Homo sapiens: one gene and its partner. The protein of the gene in region 1 purifies or fractionates together with the protein of each later gene. This does not show direct contact. Each region holds a gene or a part of one and is shown on either strand. Other genes may lie near its edges.

Evidence for each region.
Region 2: the proteins of PFKFB3 (region 1) and CLUH purify together in Homo sapiens (affinity purification with mass spectrometry; 2 studies listed by BioGRID and IntAct, with this or other methods). This does not show direct contact.

The regions. Positions count from the first base shown.
Region 1 is NC_000010.11:6,226,403-6,234,368, reverse strand, and holds part of PFKFB3 (6-phosphofructo-2-kinase/fructose-2,6-bisphosphatase 3), read right to left. Parts: intron 6,174-7,966; coding exon of another isoform or gene 6,151-6,173; intron 1,475-6,150; coding exon 1,427-1,474; 3' UTR 1-1,426. UniProt on the Homo sapiens protein: Catalyzes both the synthesis and degradation of fructose 2,6-bisphosphate.
Region 2 is NC_000017.11:2,688,264-2,695,107, forward strand, and holds the end of CLUH (clustered mitochondria protein homolog), read right to left. Parts: intron 6,839-6,844; coding exon 6,594-6,838; intron 6,302-6,593; coding exon 6,217-6,301; intron 6,014-6,216; coding exon 5,860-6,013; intron 5,777-5,859; coding exon 5,637-5,776; intron 4,657-5,636; exon of another isoform or gene 4,598-4,656; coding exon 4,517-4,597; intron 4,434-4,516; coding exon 4,308-4,433; intron 4,220-4,307; coding exon 4,098-4,219; intron 3,835-4,097; coding exon 3,741-3,834; intron 3,633-3,740; coding exon 3,498-3,632; intron 3,420-3,497; coding exon 3,346-3,419; intron 2,515-3,345; coding exon 2,331-2,514; 3' UTR 1,124-2,330; downstream 1-1,123. UniProt on the Homo sapiens protein: mRNA-binding protein involved in proper cytoplasmic distribution of mitochondria.

The DNA of each region.
Region 1 (7,966 bases):
CTCCACGCCCAGTTTCAGGTGTCTAAATCTCCCACCCTCACCCAGGACCTGTCCCTTGAGCTGGGAGGAGGATCTCAGGGCTCACAGCAGAAGGCAGGAAAGAAAAGTGACCTTTGGCACAAGCTTTGAGACATCCTGAAAAGGGTCATTTGGACAAACTCTGCTGCCGAGTTTCCAAATGGTTTCATCTGGGCACGAGACCCCCCGTCCCACCTACCCCAGGGTTTGAGGCAATGAGGAGAAACCAACAGGCTGAGACGACAGGTCCCATGCTTTCCATCACCACAAAAGTGTCATAGACGCCATGAAGGGAAGGCCAGGACAAAGTCCACTCTTCCGACCTTCCCAAGGCACCGGCAGAGTGCCAGGCACAAGGCAGATGCTCCAAGACAGTGTGCAGGCAGCTCTTGAAGAAGTGGCTGCGAGTGAGGCCTTGCTTGGGCCACTGTCCCCACCTGGGAAGAGCAGGGACGGTAATGCAAGTGCTGGGGAAGGATGCCAGGTGTTCCGCTCCCCACCTTCAGAGGTTCCAAGCCCCCCAGGGCAAGACACCCCAACATCTACGTTCCTGAAGAGAAGGTGGGACTCTCAGGTCACACTTCTGCCATCAAAAAAGTGCAAAAGCCAGCAGCTCCAGGAAAGTGTTTCTCAGTTCCCCCCAAGTCCAGGTGGGAGGAGAGAGGGGCCCTGGAGCTCCCTGGGAGCAGGAGGCCCCAGTTCTCATATTTCGGCAAAATACTTCCCTCTCCCCGTGCAGCCAGCCTGCCCTTGCACATCTTTGGAGGCAGGCCACAGGCCTGGAAGGTGTGTGGACCTGCAGGAGAGCCAGGGTGCGGACCACCCAGCCAACTTGCGTCTCAGCTCAGGGACTTCCTGCAGAAGAGGCCTCAACCCAACACCTGTCCAAGTTCGTTCCCATGAGGCGTCTTCCCAGGTCAAGATGCACCAAACAGTCACGTGGAGGTTTTACACATTCCTTAACTTTCAGCAACTAGGAGCCTGCCTCCTTTAATTTTAGGATTCTGCCACCAGTGTGGTCTTCCCAGCTCCAAACGTGCCGGGAGATCACAGAAACGAAACAAAACAGCACAGTGTCCCCAGCGGCCTCCTGTCAGGACCAGCACTCATCACCCTCCCAAGGCTTTGTGAAGGTCTCCGAGGCTGGACATTCCTAGGAAACCCAGAGAGTGGAGGTGGGGGCCCCACGGCTAAAGGCAGGGCGCCAGGGACCCACGTGGCTTTCTGGTGTCCAGCGGCCGAGGGGACACAGACGGTGCCAAGCATGGTTCTCTTCGGCCAAGGCTCCCCCGCTGCTCCACCCCACCCTCTCCGGAAGAAGTCCTCAGGATACGTTTTGCCTCGGGCGGAGGGCAGGACACAAGCTAAGCTGCAGAAATGGAAATGGAATGGAACCGACACGTCTGCCTCAGTGTTTCCTGGAGGAGTCAGCGCTGCTCCGGGAGCCTTTCATGTTCTGTTTTCAGGAGAAAAGAGAGGTGGGGAGGGAGTTAGGATTTGTAGCTGGCTGAATTCTAAAGCAGAAGACGCGAGCCATGCAACGGAGAATTCTTCCCTCCCTCCATCCCAGACAAAGAACATGATCCAAGAAAGGTGCTGCCAACCTCACAGGCGGGAGAGAGCCCAGGTGGGCCTCAGAACATGACGCAAGATAACCCCAGAGTCTCAGAGAAGGGGCTGGGCACCAGGCCTGGAGCCCGCCTGGTGGGGGCCGTGTGGCTCCTGGAGGACCGTGAGCTGCGCGGCGCTGGGCACCAGTAACTACAGGAGCCTCATGCTCACGACCCCATAGAAATCCCACAAACCACAGCCAGGCAGAGGATGAGCCCGGGGCCTCCAAGGACACACAGGGCCCCTCCTCTCGACTCAGCTCAAAACAGAGCCACACTCCCAGCTCCTGCATCCAGATTCTGGGAACAGAGCTTGACAGGCAGAACACAGGTGATACATGGAATGGCTGGACGTGGTGGGGAGGCCCAGGTGGGGAGCCAGGCAGAGGGGTGTTGTTAAAGCCCTGCCCCACTTCTGATCACAGTGGCCCTCGCAGGGAGTTCCACCCCTAAGGCACTGGCCAGTACCAAACCCCCCCGCCACCCACCCCCCGCAAAAAAACATGCTCCAAAATCAGCGAGGAACACAACTGACTGCAGCCACTGCACAGCGGGCCTCCTTCCGTGACCTGCTTCACCTACGCCTCAAAAAACAAGAAAACACACAATGTTTAAAACTATTCTCTCCAGTCCTGAGTGTCTCCACCTGGACTGCTCTAAAGAGGGTGGGAGAGAGCCCAGGCACACAGGGCCACCGTGGCCCATGCCCACCCCACACAGAACTGGGGGTCCAAGGCTGGAGCCATCCACAGGGAGGAAAGTCACGGGGCTGGGCAGCATCAGAGCTATCGCCCAGGCGTGGGCCAGACTCAGGAACCCAGGTGATGGGTGCCCACCGGGAGGTGATGGGTGCCCGCCGAGAGGTGATGGGTGCCCGCCAGGAGGTGATGGGTGCCCACCGGGAGGTGATGAGTGCCCACCAGGAGGTGATAGGTGCCTGCCAGGGGATGACGGCTGCCTGCGGGGGTTGATGGGTGCCCGCCGAAGGATGATGGAAGTGATGGGTGCCCACTGGGAGGGGGCAATTCTCTTCAGAGAGCCCTGGGTCCTCATATCTAGGGAGAGCCCCAGCCGGGCTGTGGGATCACAGAGCAGGGCTGACATTTCCCTCCGCATCTGCTGGCTCCAACCTGTCCTCAACACCACCAGCCCACAGCTTCCGGCACCCACAGGTGATGGCGATGCAACAATAACAGTGGAGAGCCTGCAAGACCGGGTGATGTCCACGTCCTTCACCCAGGGGCCCCAGCTCAGGACACGTGGGGGGTGAGAGACAGACTAGAAAGGACCTCACGACAATGGTGTTGCACTTAACAACCTCGGCATGGAGACAGATGAGCCCCGCATTGCACGATGGCCAGTCTGCACACAGACCCAGATGCCGTGACGCGGTGCGGGACAGAGGGACATGCACCCAGGCATTTACCTTCCACAGTTAGTAAGGAGAAAACTTTGAGAAAATGTGACAGACAGTTCGTCTTTCAAGCAGAGTGGGGGAGAGGAAGAAACAGGTTGGAAAAGGAAAAAAAAAAAGAAAATCTTTAGTAGGATTTTCTAGTGTGCATTTGAAATTTTAAAAATGAAGGTTGCATCACAAATGCCAGGTGATCTCTCGATCCCAAGCAGCCGGCACAGCCCCCAGGAAGGCACCCCAGAGCACCAGGTCCGGACAGTTGTTCGTCCCCATCTTACTGGGAAACCAAGATCACAGGGGTGAAGACTCTAGGCTGGGCGTGGTGGCTCACATCTGTAATCCCAGCACTTTGGGAGGCCAAGGCGGGTGGATCACCTGAGGTCAGGAGTTTGAGACGAGCCTGGCCAACATGGTGAAACCCCATCTCTACTAAAAATACAAACATTAGCCGGGCATGGTGGCGGGCGCCTGTAATCCCAGCTACTCGGGAGGTTGAGGCAGGAGAATCGCTTGAACCCGGGAGAAGGAGGTTGCAGTGAGCCAAGATCGCGCCACTGCACTCCAGCCTGGGCAACAAGAGCAGAATTCCATCTCAAAAAAAAAAAAAGACTTCAGGCCATGGCCTTGAGACCCCAGGGATTTCCCCTCCCCAAGTCTGGGTGTTCCTGCTGCCCCAGAGAAGAAATCCCTCAGGTTACAGGAGGGTATCCAAAGGCTGACCCAATGCCAGCAAGCCCAGAAGTCTCCACAGGCCCAGGGCACCAAGTTCCTCCCTGATAACAACAGCAGCCGTCATCCCCCACGCACTTCCTAGGGGCCAGATATTGTGCTAAGTGCTGTATCTATAGTCTCATTATGACAACTTTATGAAGTTATTATCTCCATATTACAGATGAGGAAGCTGAGGTCCTAGAATTGCTTTAACTTGCCCAGAGTGCCAAGGATAGAGGCCAGGAGGAGTAGAACCAAGATGCAGGCCTGGCTTGGTCTGACTTTCATCATAAATTCTGGTCACAGAGCCCAGGTGGACTCCTAGAATCAGATGTGGCTACAATCCTAGATGTGGGGTCACGCACCCAGGATGGACGGGACAATGGGACTCCAGAGTGAAATTCCAACCTGAGTCAGGTGTGATGGGTCCATCGGATGTATTTTTGCTGAACAGGAGGGATTCTAGCAAACGCACTATTATGTTCATCTTGGAGATAGGTAAGATCAGCTTTAGCGGGTGGGGGACTATCCCCGAATGGCTCCTCCCAGTAGAAAGATTTCTTTCCTGGCAACATGAGGCCACGTGTCTAACGCAGGGGTCCCTAACCCCTGGGCTGTGGACCAGTACCCAGTCCATAGCCCACTGAGAGGCGGGCCACACAGCAGGAGGTGGGTGGTGGGTGGGCCAACATTACCACCTGACTCGGAGGAGCACACACGAGGGATCTAGGCTGTGCGTTCCCTTCAGAGAATCTAATGCCAGACGATCTGAGGCAGAACAGTTTTATCCCCAAACCATCCCCTACCCTGCCATGGTGGGGAAAATTCTCTTCCACGAAACGGGTCCCTGGTACCAAAAAGGTCGGGGACTGCTGGTCTAAAGGATCAGGACATGCACAGATGTAAAACCTTCAGGCTCCAAGTCCAAAAAGTTTCACACAAGGAGAAGCCCAGATCCTGAAGCACTGCACGCTGGCCCCGCGCATCACAGACACTGGCCCTGAGGATGGAGGGTGCGCCCCAAGAAGCTGGAAGTTAAGGGCAGGCCCACCTTAGGTAAGCAAAGCCTGGCTGTGGGAAGCAGCTGCAAGGGGGTGGCTGTGGGGGTACACGAGGGTCCAACAGCTGCCCATGCCTTGCGGGTCACAGGGCAGGGGCCTCAGGACAGCAGCAGGGAACGGGCACCCAGCCCACTCCCAGAAGCCGCAGAGAGGAGGCGGCCGGCTTTCTGAAGCAAGGGGCCTTTCAGGCCCCGGCTCTGCGGCTCACCTGCTGGAAGCACGGGCCGGTCACTCAGCCCCTCAACCATTAAACGGGGGACTGACTGCCCTGCCGACCTCCCAGGGTGGTCTTAAGGAACGTGGACATGGAGGACACTGGTACATCCTCTGGCCCTTCACCCCTTTGCCACCAAAATCTGAGCGCCATGCCAAACCTCTCCCATTTCCAAAGCCAGTCATTCTTTTCAGCATCTCAGGCTGCATTCCTCATCACACCTTTCCAGTTTCTGCATAAAGTAGTTAAGGTAACTTAAGGAGCAAACAGGAAATAAAGGGGCGGGTGTGTTTTTGGGGGGGCAAGGGGATGACACTTCATGTGGCTGTCATTAAAGTTCTGTGGCAGGAAGGCCTCTGCTCCTGGTGGGGAAGGGATCCCAGAGCAGTGGGAACACAGCCCCAGCTACCCAGTGGCTGCCAGAGCTAAGGCTGAACCTGAAACTCTGCAGAGAGCTCTGGGAGGAGCAGAAGTGACCACATGGGTTAGAGATGGAGGCTGCACCCAGCCCCGGGCGTGACTATGACGCTGAGCAGGCTCCAACCCAGGACAAACGGATCCCCAAGGGTCTCCACTCGGAGCTCTTTTGGGGTGTGGGGGGTCCTCATGGGGAGGGAGAGGCTCAGAGCTCAGGCCCCACCACACTCCCACTATTCCCCATAGGTTTGGTTTACAGATTAGGCTCTGAGTAAGTTTTCCTTCCAAAACAAAGGACACTCCTGGGGCAGGAGGGGGCTTTAAGGCTAATGGCACCTGGCACAGATGCAGCTCGCCACCAAGATCTGATTCTGATAAGGAAATGTGGATTTATGCCGAGCCCTAAACCACGGCCATTACACACCACGACCTGCAGCCCTGAGAGGGTAGGGGAGAAGCCAGCGGTCGTGCGGCGGTGTCGGAACACACCCAACAGTAGTGCAGCCACCATGACCGCCTGCACGCTTTTCCAAAAACATTCAGGAATCTCTCCTCCCTACTCCTACGCCCATCTCCTCCTTCCCCCACGGAAGACCTCACATCACAAAACTGCTCTCATCCTCAATATTTTAACAGGCAGGAGGCCAAATGAGCAAGCAGGAAGAAAGCAGTGCAAGCAGCAGCGATGATCGGAGAGATACTTACAGACAGGCTTGCCCTAGCAAAGGCTGCGGAGGAGAAGCAGAGAGAGAAGTCAGTCAGGAGGCAGGGCGCAATCTGCAGGGACGAAGCCCTGAAAAACCCCACGCCGGCCCAGCCAGCAGCTTCAGACGTCCCTAAGAACCTGGCCACCCTGAAGGACTGTCCTCCCAACGCCAGGGGCAGCTCTGAAGCGGACAGGAGGATGCAGCCCCTGCCACTGCGTCCTCCACGACGGAGGTCTGTGCAGCTCAGGATATCAACCCCCTTCCCCAGCCTGGTCCCCCCAAGCATCAAAGCAGCGGCCTCTGAACTTCCAAATACAACTGCACATTTCCATCAGAACGGATGCCACAGGGACACCATTTCAGTTCTGCTGGCTTTTCATAAAAACCCTCAGATCTGAGACCTGCAAGGGAATATGTATGAGAGCTCTCCCAGTCCTGCTCCTATCATGTGCAAAGCTAAGGAGACTGAGGGCCTGGGAGGGGAAGGAACCTGGGCAATTAAATTGCTGCACTCATGTTAGTGTGGAGCTACCACCAAAGCCAGGCCTCCAGGCTTCCGCTAATCACAGCCACCTCACCGTGTCTACGCGTCCCCACCACATGCCCGACACTGGGCCTGATGCAGGGCATGAATCCCCTCATCTGATCTGACTTCTGCACTGCCATTATTCCCCCATTGCCTGGATGAAAAAACTGAGGCCTGGAGAGGTTAAGTGACCTGTGGAGGCTGCAGCATCTCCCAGGTCACATTCCAGACATCATGAGGTCTAAGGAAGTCTCGGAAAAGGCGGGAAGAGGTGGCAGGCTGAAAAGGATGCTCAGAGCCAGCACCAGCATCCGGCTCATCAACAAACCTGACCGGAAGCTGCACTGGGCTGATTTGTGGGGGCAGGCCTGGAGGGTGGAGGTAGGGCAGACCCTTGGGTGGTACCTGAATTTAAGCACAGAAATTCCTACATCTCACATATTTGCAAGGGTTCCAGGCTGTAAAGGAAAAGACCAGTTTTCTGAAAACAAACAGTTTTCTGAAAACAAATCTTAATGTCTGACAACCAAAATCTTCCAGGCCTGTAACCTTCAAAATTAATGAAATAAGTGAAATCGGGTTGGGGTTTTTTGCTTTTTTTTTTTGAGACGGAGTCTCCCTCTGTCACCCAGGCTGGAGTGCAGTGGCACCATCTCGGCTCACTGCAACCTCCGCCTCCTGGGTTCAAGCAATTCTCCTGCCTCAGCCTCCTGAGAAGCTGGGATTACAGGCGCCCGCCTCCACACCTGGCTAATTTCTGTATTTTTAGTAAAGACAGGGTTTCGCCATGTTGGCCAGGCTGGTCTGGAACTCTTGTCCTCAGGTGATCCGCCCACCTCGGCCTCCCAAAGCGCTGGGATTACAGGCGTGAGCCACCGCGCCTGGCCTTGTTTGTTAGGTTTTTTACTACCTGCTGGGATAACCATGTTATTTATGTGAGAAAGTAGCCACTTTCTTTGTTTTAGAAATAACCATTCACGAACGTGAACGGGTCTTGGACATCTCACTCTTCCTTCTGCACTGCCTGCTTCTGCCCTGTAAAGACCCCATCCTCAGAAAGGAGGCGAACGCAGTCACGGTTGTCACCAGCAAGGAAAGCCCCCAGGATCTTAACTTCGGAGGGTGCTTCCTATGTTCTCCCTCAACACGTGAGTGTGTGCACATGCCCCCACAACACACGTGCACAGACACCTACAACATACGCACGCGCACCCACACGCACCCACGCACGTATTCTTGCAAACACACACGCACGCAATCCCAGATCTGTGGCATCACGCCCGGCATG
Region 2 (6,844 bases), on another chromosome or scaffold:
AAAGTTGAAACCTGTCACCTAAAAGAAGGGAAGGAGAAAGAGTGGATTTCACACCTAGGGCCTCCATTTGCTTTATGAAAACAGCCCCTTGTCATTTGGGTCGTCAAAAGATGTCTGAGGGCACTAATACGCTTAAAGGATCAGCCAGGAAATAGGGGCCTCTCAGGTGACAAGGAGGCACAACCCTAACCAACCCCGATCTGTTCTCAGCTTCACAGGAGGCCCTGTTTTGAGAGGTGCATGAACATGTGGCTCACGTTCAACAACAAACACTCAGGAGAGGGGACAGAATGTTCAGGACACACCGGTGAGAGCAAAGGAAGCTGCTGCTGGGCTGGGGCTGCTGGGAAGTCTGAGAGGTTCTGTAGCAGGACACTCACTCGCTGGTGGCTGTCCCCGGGTGTCACCTAAAACCGCCAGGTCAGAAGCACCTTTTCTCCGGTTGGCTCAGGAAAACTGACAGACTCAGGGATGGAATTTTTTTCTTTTCAGAATTTCCAAGACGTACAGATCTCTCCAAGCATCCCAAAAGGCGTATGTTCCTGGTGGGGCCGAGGGCCTGCTCTTGGAGACAGATGGCGAGCAGCGGTCAGCAGCTACTGAGAGCTCAACTTCCCCTCTAGAGACAGGCTCTGCCGCTCAAGTCCACCTGGGTCTTGGCTCTCTGAATCCTGTCCGAGGGTGGCGAACTTGAGGCCCTCCTCCCTGCCCCCAGTGTCTCACCTCTGGGCAGTGCTGCCCACCCTCCTTCCTACCTCGAGTGAAGAGACAGGGGCAGGTGGCCAGCCAGGGGGGTGTTCAGTGACCTCACGGGTCCAGCATGCACAGGGCCTGGCCCCACAGCCCAGCACCCCTCCCCACCTGGCCTTCACAGTTTCTTCTGCACCTGGTGACAGGTGACATTCACCTGCACGACACTCCCGCGAACCTGGTGACGGACTGGCAGCTCGGTGAATTCCAGCTGAGTGCCTGTGATTCCACCCCCTTACCTCCCACTCAAGTGACAATGTAAGCGTGACCTCGAACTTGACCTCGTTTGTATCTATTCCTCTCCCAGTCACATTCCTGTCAGCCCTCACCATCCACCCAGACCGGGTTACAGAACACACAGGTGAGCCTGGGGCCGCAGGTTTCAAAAACTCACTTTATTCCAATGTGAAATGAGGACGTGATGGTTTAAAAACAAGAAAAAGTTCTTGCTCAGCGGTGGGGATGCTCTGCTTGCCCGCTCACGCCCATCCCCCTTGAAACAAGGTGTCTGGACGGACCACACCCATAAGCGGCTCTCCGCAAACCCAGGCAGACGCCCGTCTCCTCCGGGTCTCAGGGTGGCCACATCCTCCCCCACCAGGGCTCTGACAGCAGGCACAGAGCAGCAGCACGGGCAGGGTGGAGCGGGAGCAGCGTGTGGGGGCCCCCGCCACCCCCAGAGCTAGTCTCAGACCAGGAAGGGAGCTGGGCACCAGAGAAGCGACATCACGTCGGCACCTGTAACTCCCGGGATCCGTAATTGGGCCCCGCTTCCCCCAGCCTCGCCCCCGGCCCACTGTGCGTTCGGCAGCTCAGGTTAAAACTGAGGGGAGGGATACATTCAGACCGCAGGCCCCAAGGCTGCGCCCAGCTGGGTGCAGGGAGTAGGGAGCCGAGTCAGAGCCACCCACTGGGCTCTGAGGGCCCAGCAAGCCAACCCCGACCCCTCCGTTCGGGAGCAGCAGCCAGACCACGCCAGTCACAACGGCGGCTCCCGTCCCGCCCCAAACTAAAGTGCACCCCAGCCCTCCAGCCCCGCCACAGAGCTCCGGCTCCCCACCCCTCCCCACCGGGTTTTTCGGCCTAAACCCTGAACTTTCAGACAGGCTGGGCCCGGGGGTGGTGGCAGCCAAAGCAGCAGCCATCATGTCGACCATACAAATGACCTGAGAAATCCCGTCTGCGCGTCACCCACTCAGGAGTCACCCACTCAGGACTGGCTCGGGCTATGTACAGGGGAGAGGAACGGTCAACACTCACAGCCAGGGGCGCACTCGCACACGCCGGCCGGACGGCGGGGGCCGAAGCAACACCTGCCCCCCAGCCGGGAACTGATGGCCGCACACGCCATTCACGTGTCTCCAATGGGGCCTCTGCATCATCTATTCATTGAACCAGCGCAAAAACACCTTCTGCGGGGCAGGCAGGCCAGGCTCCCAGGAGGACACGGGGGTGGGGTGGGGTGAGACGTGGAGGAAGAGGGCCTTGCTTCCTCTTCCGCCCGCAGGCTCGCCCCCTTCTCCCGCAGTCGGGCTCCCTGGTGACGGGGCCGCTGGCTGGCTGTCCGTCTGGCTCCCTCTCTATCCCTGCACGCTCGGAGAAGGGTCCTTGGCAGCCGGGGGCTGGGAGCCCAGGTCTCCTGGGGCCCCCGCTGGCGCGGGCTCGGTAGCCATGGGCTCCTCGGCTCTATCCCTGTTTCTGCTGGCCTCCTGGAGCTGGTGCCGCCGCGCCACCTCGGCTTTCAGATTCTCCAGGTCTTTTTGGCTGAGGATAAGGGTGGGGATGGAGGTGGCTCTCAGAGGAGTCCTGGGGGCTCCACCCGCCTCCCGGCTTTCCTGTGGGATAAGCTCAGGCTCTGCGCTCTATTCAGTGGGGAATGTGTGTGAACAAGCGCTTCCCTCCTGAAGGCGGAAGGTCCCTGAACACGGAGAAGGTAAGGACCCCGCACCTGACCCGGCCTCGGGGCTCCCCTCGCTGCCCTCGGTGGCCTCCCTCCAGCGCAGGGGGAGGAAAGCGGAGTTGGGGGGCTGCTGCCACGCCTTGCTGACCAAATCCACTCCCCACAGGAGGCCACACTGCTTGTGGCCACCCCGGGGAGCCCGGGGCCTGCTCCTCAGCCCCCCCCCGCCGCAGGATGGGAAGCGTGGGGAGGGAATGAAGCCGCTTCTTAGGGACTGGTGGGAAAACGCCAAGATACTTTGTGTGAAGCAGAAACACCAAGGTCTTCACTCGCGGAATGCGAGGATGCTGGGGAAGATAAGCGGGGCGGGCCGGGCGCGATGGCTCACGCCTGGAATCCCAGCACTCTGAGAGGCCGAGGCGGGCGGATCGCAAGGTTAAGAGTTCGAGACCAGCCTGGTCAACGTGGTGAAACCCCATCTCTACTACAAACACAAAAATGAGCCGGGCGAGGTGGCGGACACCTGTAATCCCAGCTACTGGGGAGGCTGAGGCAGGAGAATCGCTGAACCCGGGAGGCGGAGGCTGCAGTGAGCCGGGATGGCGCCGCCGCACTCCAGCCCGGGTGACAGGGCGAGACTCCGACTCACAAAAAACCCCCAACCGGGAGACACTCGAGTGGGGCGGAGGCCTCACCTGAGAGGAATGAAGAGGATGCCGTTAATGACGTTCAGCTGCTCCAAGACGCTGGCCATGCTGGGGGCCGTGAACTGCGGGGCGGGGAAACCAGCGGTGAGCGGGGCTCCCGCGCTCGCCGGGCCGGAGGGGCCGCTCCGCCCCGGACTCACCTTGAGGGGCGGGATGTTGGCGCTGGAGCCGTTGCGGTAGATCTCGTTCATGGTGCGCTGCAGGGCCACGGCCTGCTGGGTCAGGCACTTGAGGTACTCGGAGCTTTCCTTGGTCTTCTCATGGTCCTCGCCCAGCTGCGGGGAGGCGGGAAGGGATCAGGCCCCCCCGTGCCCCCGCGGCCCCGCCCCCGCCCCGCCACGCCCCCGCCCCGCCCCCGCCCCCGCCACGCCCCCGCCGCGCACCTGCGTCTTGTAGATGGTGTAACCCTCCTTCTCGTGCTGCAGGGCCGACCGGAACTCAGCTTTGCTCTCGTAGACTCGGGCGACAAGGTGGTGGCTGCCGGGAGGCGCGGCGCGGGGCGAGGGAAGGGCATAAGTGGGCTGGGTGTGGGGGCCTGACTCGGGGGCCCGGGGTCTCCCGTAGATCCCTCCCTGGAAGCCACCGAGGGGAACAGCAAGTCCAGGGCTCAGGGAAGAGGGGGAGGTCGAGAGAAATTTTCTCGGGTGGAGGAAGACAGGAGCACTGGGTCTCTTCCCCGCCCCCGCCGGCTGCCCCGCAGGCCTCCGCCGGCCTTGGCGTTTGGACGGGCGGCCCCTCACCTGAGGGCCACCTTGAGGGCCTTGGGCCCGTGGTACTTGGTGCTGACGGCCAGCGCGTTCTCCAGGAAGCGCAGCGACAGGTCGTACTCCATCACCCCGTGCAGCACCAGCCCGATGTTGTTCTGGGGGCAGGCGGTGGGGGGCCCTGGTCAGCTCCCGGTCCCCTGGGATGGAGCTGGGTCCCTGCCGCCCCCCCGCCCCAGCACTCACGTCCAGCAGCGCCATCTCGGGGTGGTCTTCCCCGAACACCAGCAGCATGAGGTAGCGGGCGCGGTACAGCAGGCTCAGGGCGGTGGACAGCTGGCTGCTGGCGAAGCAGTACAGGGCCAGGTGCATCTGCGGGCGGGGCGGAGACAGGTCAGGGTGGCCGCGGACCCAGCCCCTCGCATCCCCCGGCGCGGGCGGCACTCGCGACTCACGTATTCCTGGATGGTGTTGGGGTGCTCGGTGCCCATCACCCGCTCGCTCATCAGCACCGCCTTCTGCTGGTTACTCAGGGCCTGGGGAGAGACAGTGGTGGTTGCCGCGGCGTGGGAACCCCCACTGCACCCAGAGCCCGCCTGGCCCCGGCCCAGCAGCCCACGGTGCCGCTCTGCAGGCTCCTGTCCCCTCCGGCTGCGCCCAGCACAGTGCAGCAGGGGGGAGGGGGATCAGCAGCAGCTGCTGCCACACCTTGAAGGGCAGGTCACGCTCCACAGAGAGCTCCACACACCCATGTCTTACACCCAACAAAATCTCCACAAACACCCAAATACAAACCTAAAACTACTAAAAATGTTACAAAAAAAAAAAAAAAGCCTGAGCAGGGGTGGGTCCCTTGAGGTCAGGAGTTTGAGACCATCCTGGCCAACATGATGAAACCCCATCTCTACTAAAAATACAAAAATTAGCTGGGTGTGCTGGCTCACGCCTGTAATCCCAGCTACTCGGGAGGCTGAGGTGGGAGAATCGCTTGAGCCCAGGAGGTTGAGGCTGCAGGGAGTCGATATCACGCCACTACACTCCAGCCTGGGTGACAAAGCAAGACCCTGTCTCAGAAACAAACAAACAAACAAACAACCCACCCATTTATAAACAGAAGAAAAAACAGTCCCTTTGCAGGGAGTAGGGATCCTAAGACATGCTAACCCTGAAACAGCCCTGGCCAGGCAGGGCACCCAGAACCCCACCACAGCCTCCACCAGCCCCGGCCAGGCAGGGCACCCAGAACCCCACAGCCTGCACTGGGCACAGAGGACGTGGGAGCTCGGTGGCATGCTTCCTGCCCACTCACGGAGTCTCAGGAGGCGTCCTTGCTGACGCCCTGTGGGGGGGTCCCCTGCCATCGCCTCCCAGAACTGACCTCACCGCAGCACAGGGTGCTCCTGAGCTCTCCCGCTCGGGACACAGTTACAGAGGGGTGGAGCCAGGGGTGGCCTGGGCAGAACCAGCGACTTCCTGGGGTCTCCCTGGACTCCACCCACTCCTCCGTCAGGGGCCCCCTCACTCCCCATCCCCCAACACGAGGCCAGGCCTTTGCTGCCACAGCCCAGAGGGTACCTCTGCGTAGTCGCCCATGATGTAGTGGAGGCGGGCGAGGAGGCGCAGGCAGGCGCAGGTCTCCACGTGCATGGCTCCGTAGACGTTGTTAAACAGGTTCAGGGCCTCATTGATGAGCTCACAGCCCTCCTTCAGGAAGCCTGCAGGGCACCCCCAGGGGTGGCAAGGTCAGGACGGGCCATGGGGAACCCCCACCTCCACCCAGCCCCACCTGGCCACACACCCTGCTGCACTTTGGCCTGCCCGCTCTGGAAGAAATGGAAGGCATCCGAGGCCTTGGGGTTGACGTGCTTGACCACGGGGAAGATGTTGAGCACGTCCTCCTCGGTGAACGCGGGCTTGTGGCGACTGTCGAAGCTGTACTCCTTCAGCAGGACCTGGGGGGCAGCCCCCCCACCACAGGAAGCCTCAGGCCCAGGTTCAGCGGGTTGGCACCTCCCAACCCACCAACGCTTGCGCACAGACGGCTACCGTGAAAAAGCCACTTCCCCTGTGGCCCTGGCCAGGAGTGGGAGCCTGCAGCAGGGACGCAGCGGGGACACAGCGGGGACACAGCGGGGATGCTGTGAGCCATGCCCACCTGGATCCCTGTTTTCAGCGAGATCTCCCGCAGGAGCGTTATCTTCTGCAGGCCGTAGGTCTCCACAGCCTGGTCCACGGTCTCACTGAGGAGGGAGCAGGGGGCCTGAGCAGCCCAAGCACCGCCGGGCCCCCCCAACACCGCCCCACCCAGCTCCCCAACGCTGTCCAGCCCGGGCCCCCAACACTGCCCCACCCGGCCCCCGGGAGCCTCCCGGCTGCCCTCACCCTCCAGCACCCAGTGATCTCCACAGCTGCTCCCTCTTCTCTCTGACTCCCTGGCCTATGACCACAGGCCTTAGACGCCATCTGGGAGCAGGTGGTGGCCGCCTCATCTGCCCAATCCCACCCACCCCACCGCCCCTGCCCCGCACGCACCACTCGAGGTCGAAGTCAAAGTAGTTCTTGGCCTCCTGGCAGATGTTCTTCCAGAGCTCCTGGGGGGTCATGACAGCCCAGGCTGTGTTATCTGCAGCCCCCGGGGGCCGGTTTTTCCTCCTCTTATTCCGCTTCTTGGAGACCAGCTCGTCGGCGGGCAGGTGGGCCACGGGGTTTGGGTAGGAGCTCAGGAAGCAGTTCAGGAAGTGGCTGATGGCGGCTGAGAGGCCGGAGAGCTCGACTCCCTGCGA